2 separate regions of the Homo sapiens genome follow, and region 2 is linked to region 1. The links come from fine-mapping of genetic effects on gene expression. A gene starts in region 1. The other region holds a variant in brackets. All regions are shown on one strand. Distances are from middle to middle. Region 1 holds the start of DUSP8 (dual specificity phosphatase 8). Region 2 has its middle 3.7 kb from the start of KRTAP5-3.

The links. PIP is the estimated chance that this variant, and not a neighbour inherited with it, causes the effect.
Region 2: its variant is the best candidate, but not a certain one, in a credible set for the expression of DUSP8 in anterior cingulate cortex (GTEx, PIP 0.83).

Annotation. Positions count from the first base shown.
Region 1 is chr11:1,569,410-1,574,776 of GRCh38, forward strand. DUSP8 (dual specificity phosphatase 8) reads right to left here and starts at 2,862. Exons shown (of 7, transcript NM_004420.3): 1 at 2,492-2,862. It overlaps KRTAP5-AS1 (KRTAP5-1/KRTAP5-2 antisense RNA 1), which reads left to right and starts at 3,332. Exons shown (of 2, transcript NR_021489.2): 1 at 3,332-3,659. RefSeq lists enhancers at 1-400, 1,916-2,463, 3,012-3,557.
Region 2 is chr11:1,602,033-1,607,399 of GRCh38, forward strand. No RefSeq gene overlaps it. Among named protein-coding and RNA genes, the nearest start is that of KRTAP5-3, 3.7 kb to the right of the region's middle. The variant T/C (reference allele first, on the strand shown) is at 2,101.

The DNA of each region.
Region 1 (5,367 bases):
CACACACAGGGCTGGTGCTCCTTACCCACAATCCACCTGCCCTGTGTGCAAGTACCCACGCGTGAATATGTGCACACGCGTGGGCTGGACATACACTAGAGTACACGCACGTCCTTGCCCTCTGTATGCAGGATCCCCTGAGAACCCCAGGACTCCAGTACCCGAGGGGTCAGCTTCAGACTCCTTACAAACACGAGCTCCCACACCCAGCGTCTCTGTGCAGCACATTCCTGTCCCTGAGCACAGACGGGACCAGGGAGTCCCAGGCCACCCCCAGCTCTCAACTGACAGCATCCTTACCATGTTACCTTCTGCTCAGCACCTAGAAATGGGGACTCACTACCTTCAGAGACAGCTGCCAGGACTGTCAAGCATGGGGGGATGGGACTGTGTCTCCCCCTCACACCTAGGCAGGCTCTTGGAGCTGTCCGGCTCACTGTTACCCAGGGATGCTTCTGGAGGCAGAAATCGTCACACTAAGGAGGCTGAGGAGAGACTGGTGGGTGGCAACTCTGGGAGGCAGGGACCCTGCACTCACACAGGTCAGCTCATCTTCCCTCACTGGGCTCCCCCAGATGCCCTCATCCCTGCCTCCCCTCAGCTCCCTTGGCTAGTGCTGTAGGACCCAAGCTGGCCTACACTCTGCTCCGCTGGCCTGGGGAAGCTGTGGACCTGGGAGAAAGTGGGGTGGGGCGGGGGGCTCCCTCCGATCCCAGGAACGGGGTCCGGGCAGGGCAGGGGATGGGAGGACTTGGCACAAGGGGCCGTGACAGTCGAGTCTCAGAGCCGGACATATCCAGGTTCCCTCCCTTCCCACCAGACCTGTGTCCCTCCTCCTGGTCACTGTGCCACATGCTAAACATCAGGACCAGTGTGGCGCTTCCAAGGTTCACTGCCCTGAGCAACTCCGGCAGAGGGGGCCTCAGCGGGTGCAGTTCTCATGGCCAGAGTCCAACCACCTCTCTCTCACTGTGGGTCTGCCCCTTTCCCTGCCTTCTGCAAGAAGTGACACCTAGGTCTCCCCAGGCCCTAGCTGATGCCCCTTCGAGGCACCTGTCCAGTGGCAGCCTCTAGGCCCTGACTTCAGCCCCAGCCTGAGAAGAGAAGGGTCCTGGAGCAGAGACTGACTCTAAGCGTCTTTCTGCACCTCTGTTAATGGGACTTTATTCCCAGAAGCCTCCCCGAGGACAGAGGATACCAGGGGAATAGAACCTGCCCAGCCACACTCGTGCAGCCCCCGGCTGGCTGCAGCAGGAGGTATTTCAGCGAGACTTCAGGATGAACTTCCAGCTGGGGTCACATGATCTGCCATCCGCATCCAGTGCTTATTAGCAGTGAATGCATGGGACTGTCCTCCTGGTGGAGGGCTGGGGCCTGGGGTGCTACATTCACCCCTGGACCGCCCTAGGTGCAACAGTGTCTCTGGGTGGGCTGTGCCAGAAGGGAGGCAAGGGAGAGTGCCGGGGTTTGGATCTCCCCTCAGACCCCCCGCTGGGGCACAAAAGGAGCTTCCCTGGCCTGCAGCACCCCACCCCCACCCCAAGCTGCACAGCAAGAGCACTGCGGAGCCACGCTACATCCTGCCACCCCCTCCTCCATCCCACAGTGTCCCCGCCCCCCATCACTGCAGCACCAGAGCCCCTATTCCCCTCAGCAGAGGCCGGTACACCCCGCAGCAGGGAGACGGAGGCAGATTCTCCCAGAAGGGGTGACCCTGTTGGGGCTGGGCCTATTGTTGCCCCCTCCCCTCCAGGCCAGACTATTAGGTATCCCCACCTGGTCTGCTCCGCATCCCAGGCTGGGCAGCTGGGCCTAGCGAGGTGGCTGCAGCAGCCTGGCTGTGCCAGCCCCTCCCCCAGCGCCGCGGCTGCCTCTGCAGCAGGCGGAAGGGCGCGGGGGCTTTATCCCTCAGGGGCCGGCTGGGCACCCCGGGATGGGGAGGCAGTGCGGCCTGGACACTGGGGGGATGGATCTGCAGCCCTCCCCCCCGACAGGGGAAGGCCCCTTCCCGGGTGTCCCAGGCCAGAGGCCGTCGCGTCCCTCCCACGGCCGAGGCTCCACACCTCCCGGACCGACTCCGGGCCAGGGTCCGCCTGCTCCGGTTCTGGCCCCCGCGGGGGTGACGTTCGGGACGTCGGGGGCTCGCGCAGATCCGCGCTGGATCTCAGGCGGCCCTGGTGGGTCCTGGATTTTTGTCCCCCCCCCATTCCACACCCAAAGAAGGAGCTGCGGGGAGAAGGGCGGCAACGCGGCGGGCGGGCGTGGGCTGGGCCCGGGTCCGCCGGGCGTTGCGGGGGGCGGGGAAGGGGCCTCCCTGTCCCTGGCGTCCTGGACGGCCGTGGCCGCTCATTCCGGGGCCGCCTCCTCCTCCCGGGCGCCCACCGGGTGCCGCTGCCCCAGCGCCCCCGACGCGGCGCCCTCCGCCCCCCGGCCCGGGCCGGTGAACCCCATCCCCGGCGCCCGCCCCCGCCCCGCCGGCGCCTCCGCTCACCTCGCTCGCGCTCGCCTCGGGGGCGCTCCGGGGACCCGCGCCGCGCTCAGGGCGCCCGCTCGGCCGCGCCGTCCATGGGCCCGGCGGGGGCCCGCGCAGCCGGGGCAGGGGCCGGGGGAGCGCGCGGGCCGCGTCGCCGTCGCCGCCGTCGCCGCCGCCAACGCCGCGGGGAGCGCTCGCTCGGGCCGGGGCGCGCGCACTGCGGGCGGGCACGCGCGCTCGCGGCGCGCATCCCAGCCCCGCGGCTCGGCGGGCGCGGCCGGGAGGTTCCGGCGCGGCTCGGGCTCGGGCTCGGGCTCGGGCTCGGGCGTCCGGCGTCCGGCGGGGCGTCGTGGGGGGAGCCGGCTCGGCCGCCGCGCTCGGCCGCGAGTGACAGGCCCGGGGCGGAGGGCGGGGCCGCCGGCGGGGATGAGGTCATGCCGAGCGAAAAAAGCCCCTGACGTCACCTGCAGCCAATCAGCGCGCGCGGCTCGGGGGCAGGTGACGTCAGCGGAGCCCGGGCTCGGGGTGAAGCTGAGGCGGCTGCCGCGGGGGGGGGGCGGGGTGCAGGGTGCGGGTGGGTCGCGCCGCCGCCGCCTTCCGCCCTCACCCCGGGACCGGCTCTTAAAGGGACCACGCGGCGTCCGGGACCCCGCCTCCAGGAAGCCCTCCCGGCCCCGGGCCCCGCGTCACCCAGGCCCCCCGTCACCCGGGCCCCCGGCCGCGTCGCACAGACCCCGGACGGTCCAGCTGAGCGGCTCCGGGCGCGAAGTCCTCCCCCCGACCCGGACAGGCGCCGGCGCCGCTCCCCCCTTCTCCTGGCCTTTGTTGGCGCTGGGCCGCCGCCGGGGAGCCCTCCCCAGACCCAGGCGCGGCGTTTTACCTGCAGCGGCTGTGCTCGCCCCGCCGCGACCCCCGCAGGACGGAGCCGGATCCCCCTGCACTCGGGCGGACCTGGGACCCTCAGAGGCGAGCCGGCTGCCTCGGGTCACACATCCGCGAACTCCGGGGGCGGGCTCCCCAGGACGCCGCCGACCCCCCACGACCCCCAGCCCTCCCGCTTCCGTGGAAAGCCGCCCCGACGACCCCTGTGCGGGCTGTTGAGGGGCCGCACCCCGCCGACCGCTGTGGGAACACCTCCGCGCGTGCGGCGGGGACGCGGCGAGTCCGGGGCAGGAAGAACGCACGGGTAATTGCACCTTCGGCAGGTGTTGGGCGGGAGCAAGGGGGTCAGACTCGCGCTGCAGGGGGAGGGCGGGGGAGGCCTCGCTGTCCTGGAGGAAGGGGACAAAGACCCCTGCCCAGGAGCCTGGGAGCCTTTGAAAGTAATGATTTTTTGGCGGGGGGGGGTTGTCACGAGACACCCTAGACATTTCTAAAAGGCCCCCTCCCCGCTGCCGGGTGGAGAGGGAGCGTGGGGGGATCCGCCTTCTGCCCCCGAGCCCCCAGCCAGCCTGGGCCCCCCAGGGTCACCCTGGGGCTCTGAAGGGGGCTTCGGCCGCTGGTTGAATGAAGGGCCACAGAAAATGAAGCTGGCGCAACGACCGCAGAACCCTCAGTGGGCACCAGGACCACGGAGCTCAGGGTGCCAATGGTGATGGCTGGGGGTGGGGAGTACTGTGGGCAGCAGGGGATGCTGAGCGGGGTTTGGGGCTCCCCCTTTCCATACTCAGTCTTCCTGCCAGCCTCAGAGCTGAGTACACCGTTGGCGATTAATAAGCGCTTGCAGCTCCCTTCCCTGGCCAGCCTGAGGGGAGCGGCAGTGGCCCGTATGGGGTGGGGGTGGCGGTGGAGTGCGTCCTGGCGCAGAGCTGGCACACAGCACAAACAAACGCCTTGGCGGGAGTGGGTCTGTCCCGGAAGGGAGCCCAGGGGTTATTGGGGTTGGGGCTGCGCCCCAAAGCGGGAGGGCCCTGCGAGAAGGGAGGCCCTGGCTGGAGGGGGACCCTGAGACTGGAGGTGCCGGACCCGGATGCGGGGCCAGGTGAGTAGGGCTGCCTGCTGCAGCCTTGCTGGGTTTGAAAAGTGGGGGAGGCTTGGCCCTGGGAGGGGGCAGGAGGATTCAGGCTGAGACCCGGAGGGGGCGAAGGAGGTCCTTGAGGAGGCAGTCACAGGCCTGAAAGGACCTGGGACCCGCAGGCATGGGAGCTGTTAGCCGTTAGATAGAGGGGCTGTCGCCTGGGGGGAAGCCTCACCTGGCTTGTTCCCCCTGCCAGGCCTAGGTGAGCCCGATGGGCGTGTCTTCTGCCCAGCTGGGATGTGGCCAGCATCTGCCTGTGGCCTGGGAGTGCCCATTGTCCCCTAAGAGCTCTGGTTATACCCTGGGCAGCTACTGGCCAGGCTGGAGCAGGTGGCAGGCAGCGACCTTTAGTCCCTCCTGGAGGCTCCCAGGGGGCGGTTTGGAGGGGAATACGGCTCCCCTGGAGGGCCTGGGCTGTCCCTGGGGGGCAGAGTGCCCTGGGCGGCGATTGTTATAATCCCCGTAGCCATTTTCATGCAAATAAGCACTGAGAGCGTTAGGTTCTGCCCCTAACCAGGCTGGCGGACTAGGGAGGTGGCACCCTGGGGAGGACGGTGGTTTTTCTGCAGCCCCGCCTTAGTTCCACGTTGCCTTTGCACCCAGCAGAGGCCGGCCTGGGCGGTGGGCTCAGGGGCCTGGGTGCCCGACCAGGTCGGCTCGGCTCAGCTCAGCTCGGCGGCCGCACCGCCTCCCGGCACAGGTGTGGACGGGGGTGGGAGGCGCGACCAGGGAGGGGGCTGCGGTGTCAGTCCCGGCCCGGGCCTGTAGACGCCGCCTCGGGGGTCTCTGGGGCTCGGGAGGACCTTGCGAGGGGCCGGGGAGGCGCCAAGGCCGCGGCGAGGGACGTGCGGGGGTCCAGCAGCCTGGGGCGGGGACG
Region 2 (5,367 bases), 33 kb after region 1:
ACGTATTTTCCTACATTCTCTAATAAATCTGCCTTTCCTTACCTACAACTGTCTTGGTAAATTCCTTTTCTGCCCACGCTAGTGGACTCAGTTAGTGGCTACCTGCAACATTTTATATCTACTAGACTGACCAAAATTAACAAGAATAATAACACCTATTGCTAGTGAAATTGGGGGAAAAGGTACTCATACATTGTTCTGGGGATACAATTTATTACAGTTTTTTTGAAAACAATATCTAATAAAATTAGGTCATATCAATACAATTAGTCTTGAAATTACTGAAAAAAGATTAAACGTAAACATATTCGTGTATACATATATGTGTATGATCTATTATTTACAGTGTCAGAAAAAGAATCCTAGCAAATTGAAAATTAATACTAAAAGTCATACCCACTAAAAAATAAGATTACACCTGTACCAGTGGACTTGGAGAAATTTCCTCAAGGCTCTGGCTAGTGTGAAATGTAGATGCAGAGAAATGAGCCCTGTAGGATCCTATTTTAGTAGCAAGCAATAAAAATATCTTTTACACATATGTTGAGTGTGTGCCTGGGGTACGTAGGACAGTGGCTGGGTGGAGTGGGGAAGGTGTGTAGGAATCAACAAAAAGCAAATGACAGTGAAAAGTGAGTCCAGTATGTGTGATCCTACTTGTGGAAAAACTCCACATATATGAATACGCATGCGCGTAAAGAAACATAGACTTATACCCAGATCTACTTCCTAGGAGAGGCAACCATGATACAAGTTCTAGTGAAAAGAATTAAGTTGCAAAGAAATGTGGATAATAAAATCCGAATTGGTAGCAATACCCAATTGTGTATGCGCATCTATTTTTTATACATTGTATGTGCAAGTAGGAGGGTTGGGTGGGGGTGCCTGTGGGGCCTGGCACTGGGGGTGGCTTTTATTGTTTTTTAATTGTGTATATTTAAGACATACAATTCGATGATCTCATATATGTCTACATTGTGAAATAATCACCACAGTCAAGATAATTAAGACATCTGCCACTTCACATAGCTCTCTCTCTCTCTCTCTCTTTTCTTGGTGGTGAGAACATGTAGGATCTACCCTCTCAGTACGTTTTAAGTACATAATAAACACCGTGTTGTTACCTGTGGTCACTTTGCTATGCATTGGGTCTCCAAGCCTTATTTATCTTGAAGAACTGAAGCTTTGGACCCCTGGGCCAGCACCTCCTCATTTCCCCTTTCCCTGCCTCTGGTTCCCATGCTTGCACTCTGTGCTTCTGTGAGTTTCACTCCTGTAGACTCCATGTGTGAGGGAGAGCGTGTGATGTCTGTCTTTCTGTGTCTGCCTCTTTTCACCCTGTGTAATGTCCTCCAGATTTGTACATGTTGTTGTAAGTAACCAGATCTCCTTCTTTTGAAAGCTGAAGAATATTCCATATATACACGTATAGATGTATGCATATATTCCACATTTTGAAAAAGTCAAATACATAGAAACATAGAATAGAACAGTAGTTACCAGGGTCTGGAGGAAGAAGGAAAGGGGGAGGAGGAGGTCAAGGGCTTGCGGTTGTGTAGGAGAGGGAGCCGAGCAGTCCAGTGCACAGTGCAAGGACTACAGGTGACAGTCAGGTGTTGTGTGTGGCAGGTGTGCTGAGAGAAGACTCCAGGTGCTCCTACCACACACACATACACACACACTAACATCGTACACACATACTTACCCTCATACACACACATACACACACACACTCACCCTCATACACATACATACATACACACAGTCTCACACACAATTAAAAACACACCTTACACACACTCATACACACATAATCATACAAACACACACACTCATACACATGCATACACACTCATACACACACTTATCCAAACACACCCATGCACACACACTTATACACACACATACAAAAAGGAACCATGGAAGGTGTTGGAGATATTAATTGCAGCCATCATTTCAGTAGTGTACATGTTTACCACAGCACCATGTTGTCCACCATGAATATGTACAATAAAAATAAATGTAAAAAAAGATGTGTCTTGGGAGAGTCCTTCATAATAACACCTGAGAGGTGTCACCTTTCTTGACTTTTTCTGACCA[T/C]GAAATGCACCTGCCAAGGATGGCAGACGTAGGGAACTGACCTCCTGGGCCCTCACGTGCCCAATTATCTTTGGCCCTCCGGACTGGAGCAGTTTGTAGACCTTGGAAGCAGGGCCCCAGCACTGACTGCTTGGCCTCAGGCCTCTGCCCCATCGGTGGTCAGGTGGCGGCCACGAGGGCGTGGGAGCTTGGCCATCCCTGCCTCCTGGAGTGGACGAGGTTGGCGGCTGGTCAGCCTGCTCCTGCCCCACCCTTGCCTCATGGACCCTGGTAGCATCACTGGCTCAGCCTTGCTGGGCATGCACAGGCAGCAGCACCCGCTCTGATCCAGGAGGCTTGCCCTGCTTTTGGCTAAGTTCTGGGTCCGGCCACTGCCACAGAAGGCTCAGTCCCCTGTGTGATCCTCCTGGCTGCTGCTGGGTGCCCATGGCGCCCCTGATGCCCTTCCCTTGACAGGGCTTGGGTTAGCATCAGGCCAGGACCCTCTGGGACTGGGACTTGTGCCCTGTCTGGGGTCCCTGTCCCACAGGTTGGGCCAGAGGCCACAGGGCATGCTGCTGGCTGGCCATGGCTGCAGGAACGTGACACTCACCCTTCCCTCTGGCAGCCTCCAAGTGATGAGTTTTCCAGTGGATATTAATTTCCTGAGGCCAGGAGCCATCTGGGGCTACAGGGCAGCCTGCCGTGTGCCATCCTGGCCCCTTCCACACCATGCTGGCCACTGCCTGTCATGGGGGTCGGAAGCAGGCGATCCCGTGCAGGAGGTGTCTCTGGACCTGCCTCTTCTCTTGCTCATCACAAGGCCAGGCCAAGCCTGGTGTCAGGACCCTGGTGGGGTTGCAGGGCCAGGCCTGTCCCCTGTGCCTGGGGTGTCCAGGGCACACATAGAGGAAATAGGGGCCCTGCATCCCGGCTCCTCAATGTACTGTAGAAATCATGGGCCCTCAACATTCAGGTCCGTGGGAGGCATCCACAGAGACTTCCAATGAAGGAACTGTTAGACAACTCCTGGTCTCTCCTGAGCTGGGGACAGGCCAGCCACACCCTGAGCCCCTGGGGACCCCCAGAGAGTGGCCTACTGTCTTGGGCTCTGAGGAAGTGCTCTCATTGTAGAGCACGGGGGATGTTGTGGCCCACTCCTCTCAATTTTGCTGTGAACCTAAAACTGCTCTGAAAAAAAAGTCCATTAAAGGAACTAGCATGGGCTGATGGGGAGGGGCTCATTCACCCCTGAGTTGGACACCGTGTGGCTACGAATCCACCCTCAGACCACAGAGTGGATTTCGGCAGCAACACCACACCCTAGCCTCATCCTGAGCTCAAATTTAACTCAGATAGACCAGGCCCTTTTTCTATCGTTCTTAGCCACCATTAAACCAGGTCACTCGTTCTGTGTTTTTGCAATTGGCTTTTAAACAAAAGAGCTGGGTTTGGTGTATGTTTCCTTGTCAAATATTTTTTTCCAATAACACAGGTGGAAGAAAACAGACAGGGCCTCTTTCTGGTCCAGCCATGGGGTGGAGGCCGTTTTTGACTTTCACCTTCCTCTGTGGGTCCAGCTCTCTCTTGCTTGTTGGCTCTGAGGATTATTTAGTTTTTCAACAGCTCAGTGACTTAAAAAAAATATATATGCTTTAAACATAGCACTTTAAAGCTTTATTTATTTACTTACTTATGTATTTATTTATTTATTTATTTAGAGAAAGAGTCTAGCTCTGTCGCCCAGGCTGGAATGCAGTGGTGCGATCTAGGCTCGCTGCAACCTCCGCCTCCTGGGTTCAAGCAATTCTCTTTCGTCAGCCTCCCAAGTAGCTGGGATACAGGCGCCCACCACCATGCCTGGCTAATTTTTGTATTTTTAGTGGAGACGGGGTTTCACCATGTCCTTTTAGAAGTTTCAGGGTTGTGAATAGTGTCTAGTCAACCTTACTACCGAAACAGAAACTCAGAAGCAATTTCTGAAACTTCCGTGTTGTTGAGTTTTCACTTTCTTGTCGCAGTTCCGCCAGGCACTCACTGCCTACCATCCTGTGAGACGGTGGCTTCCCGAGCAGCCTCCAGCGCTCTGCTGTTACAGACGCCTGGGTCTGGGGGCTCCAGCCTTGCAGCCCACCTCCTCCTCCGCCAGCTCCTGCCTTCCCTCCCCATGAGTCGAACATGCTGGACTTTGGTCTAGGCCCTCCAGCCTCCGGAACTGGGAGAAATGGTGTCTGTTGTTCCGTCTTCCAGGCTTACTCTGTGGGTTTTGTTCTGGCAGCCCCAGCTGACAGAGGCAGCAGGGAAGGGACAGGTGGGCACCTGAATCAGAAGTCTGTGTAGGGAGGTGTCACAAGGAGGCAGGAAATAGATGTCTGTAGGAAGCCTTCCAGGAGATGCTGAGGGATTTGGCGACTTGTGGGGGAGAGAAGCCCAAGGGGCCTCCCAATTCTGTATCCTGGAAGATGGGAAAGACGGAGACGCCCCAAGCCAAGTGGATGCCACGGCTGAGTTGTGCCCCCTGGTTCATATGTTGGAGTCCTCAACGCAGTATCTCAGAATGGCACCTTATTTGAAGATAGGTCTTTACAGGGGTGATTAGTTCAAACATGGACCTAATGGAGTAGGGTGGGCCCTAGTCTAATCTGTGTCCTTATGCAAAGAGATGAGGACGCAGACACACACAGAGGGATGAGTACGTGAGGATATAGGGATGGCGGCATCAGTAAGCCACGGAGGGAGGCCTCAGGAGGACCCGGCCCTGAGGCACCTCGATGGCGGATTCCGGACTCCAGACTGTGAGACAATCCACTCCTGTTGCTTAAGCCACACGGTTTGTGGAGCAGCCCTAGCAAACTCACACAGCAGGGTACGGGGGGTTCCCAAATGCCTGGGAGTGCAACTCTGTGGAAAGTGTACATTTCTCTAATCACACAGAAGTTGAAACAAAAGAATCACAATGCAAACTCGTGGGAGGTGCAGATCGTATTTATTTAGAAGATCTAGCCTAGGCACTTACAAGGCGAAGCCCTGGGGAAAGAAACAGGGCCAGGTCGGAGGTAGAAGAGGAGACTGGGCGCCCCTCCTCCTCAGGAGAGGATCCTGGGGTCTCCAATAATTCCGAGTCCTCTAGGTCAACTCCAAAAGCAATCGGAGCGGTGGCAGCTCAGGCAGGATGAAGACGAAGCGGGGAGGAGCCAGGAGGTTGCGGGGACCGGGGAGAGGCGGCAGCAGGTCGGAGGATTCCAGTGTCAGCGTGTTTCCAGCAGGCTCACAGGAGGGGCCCAGGGA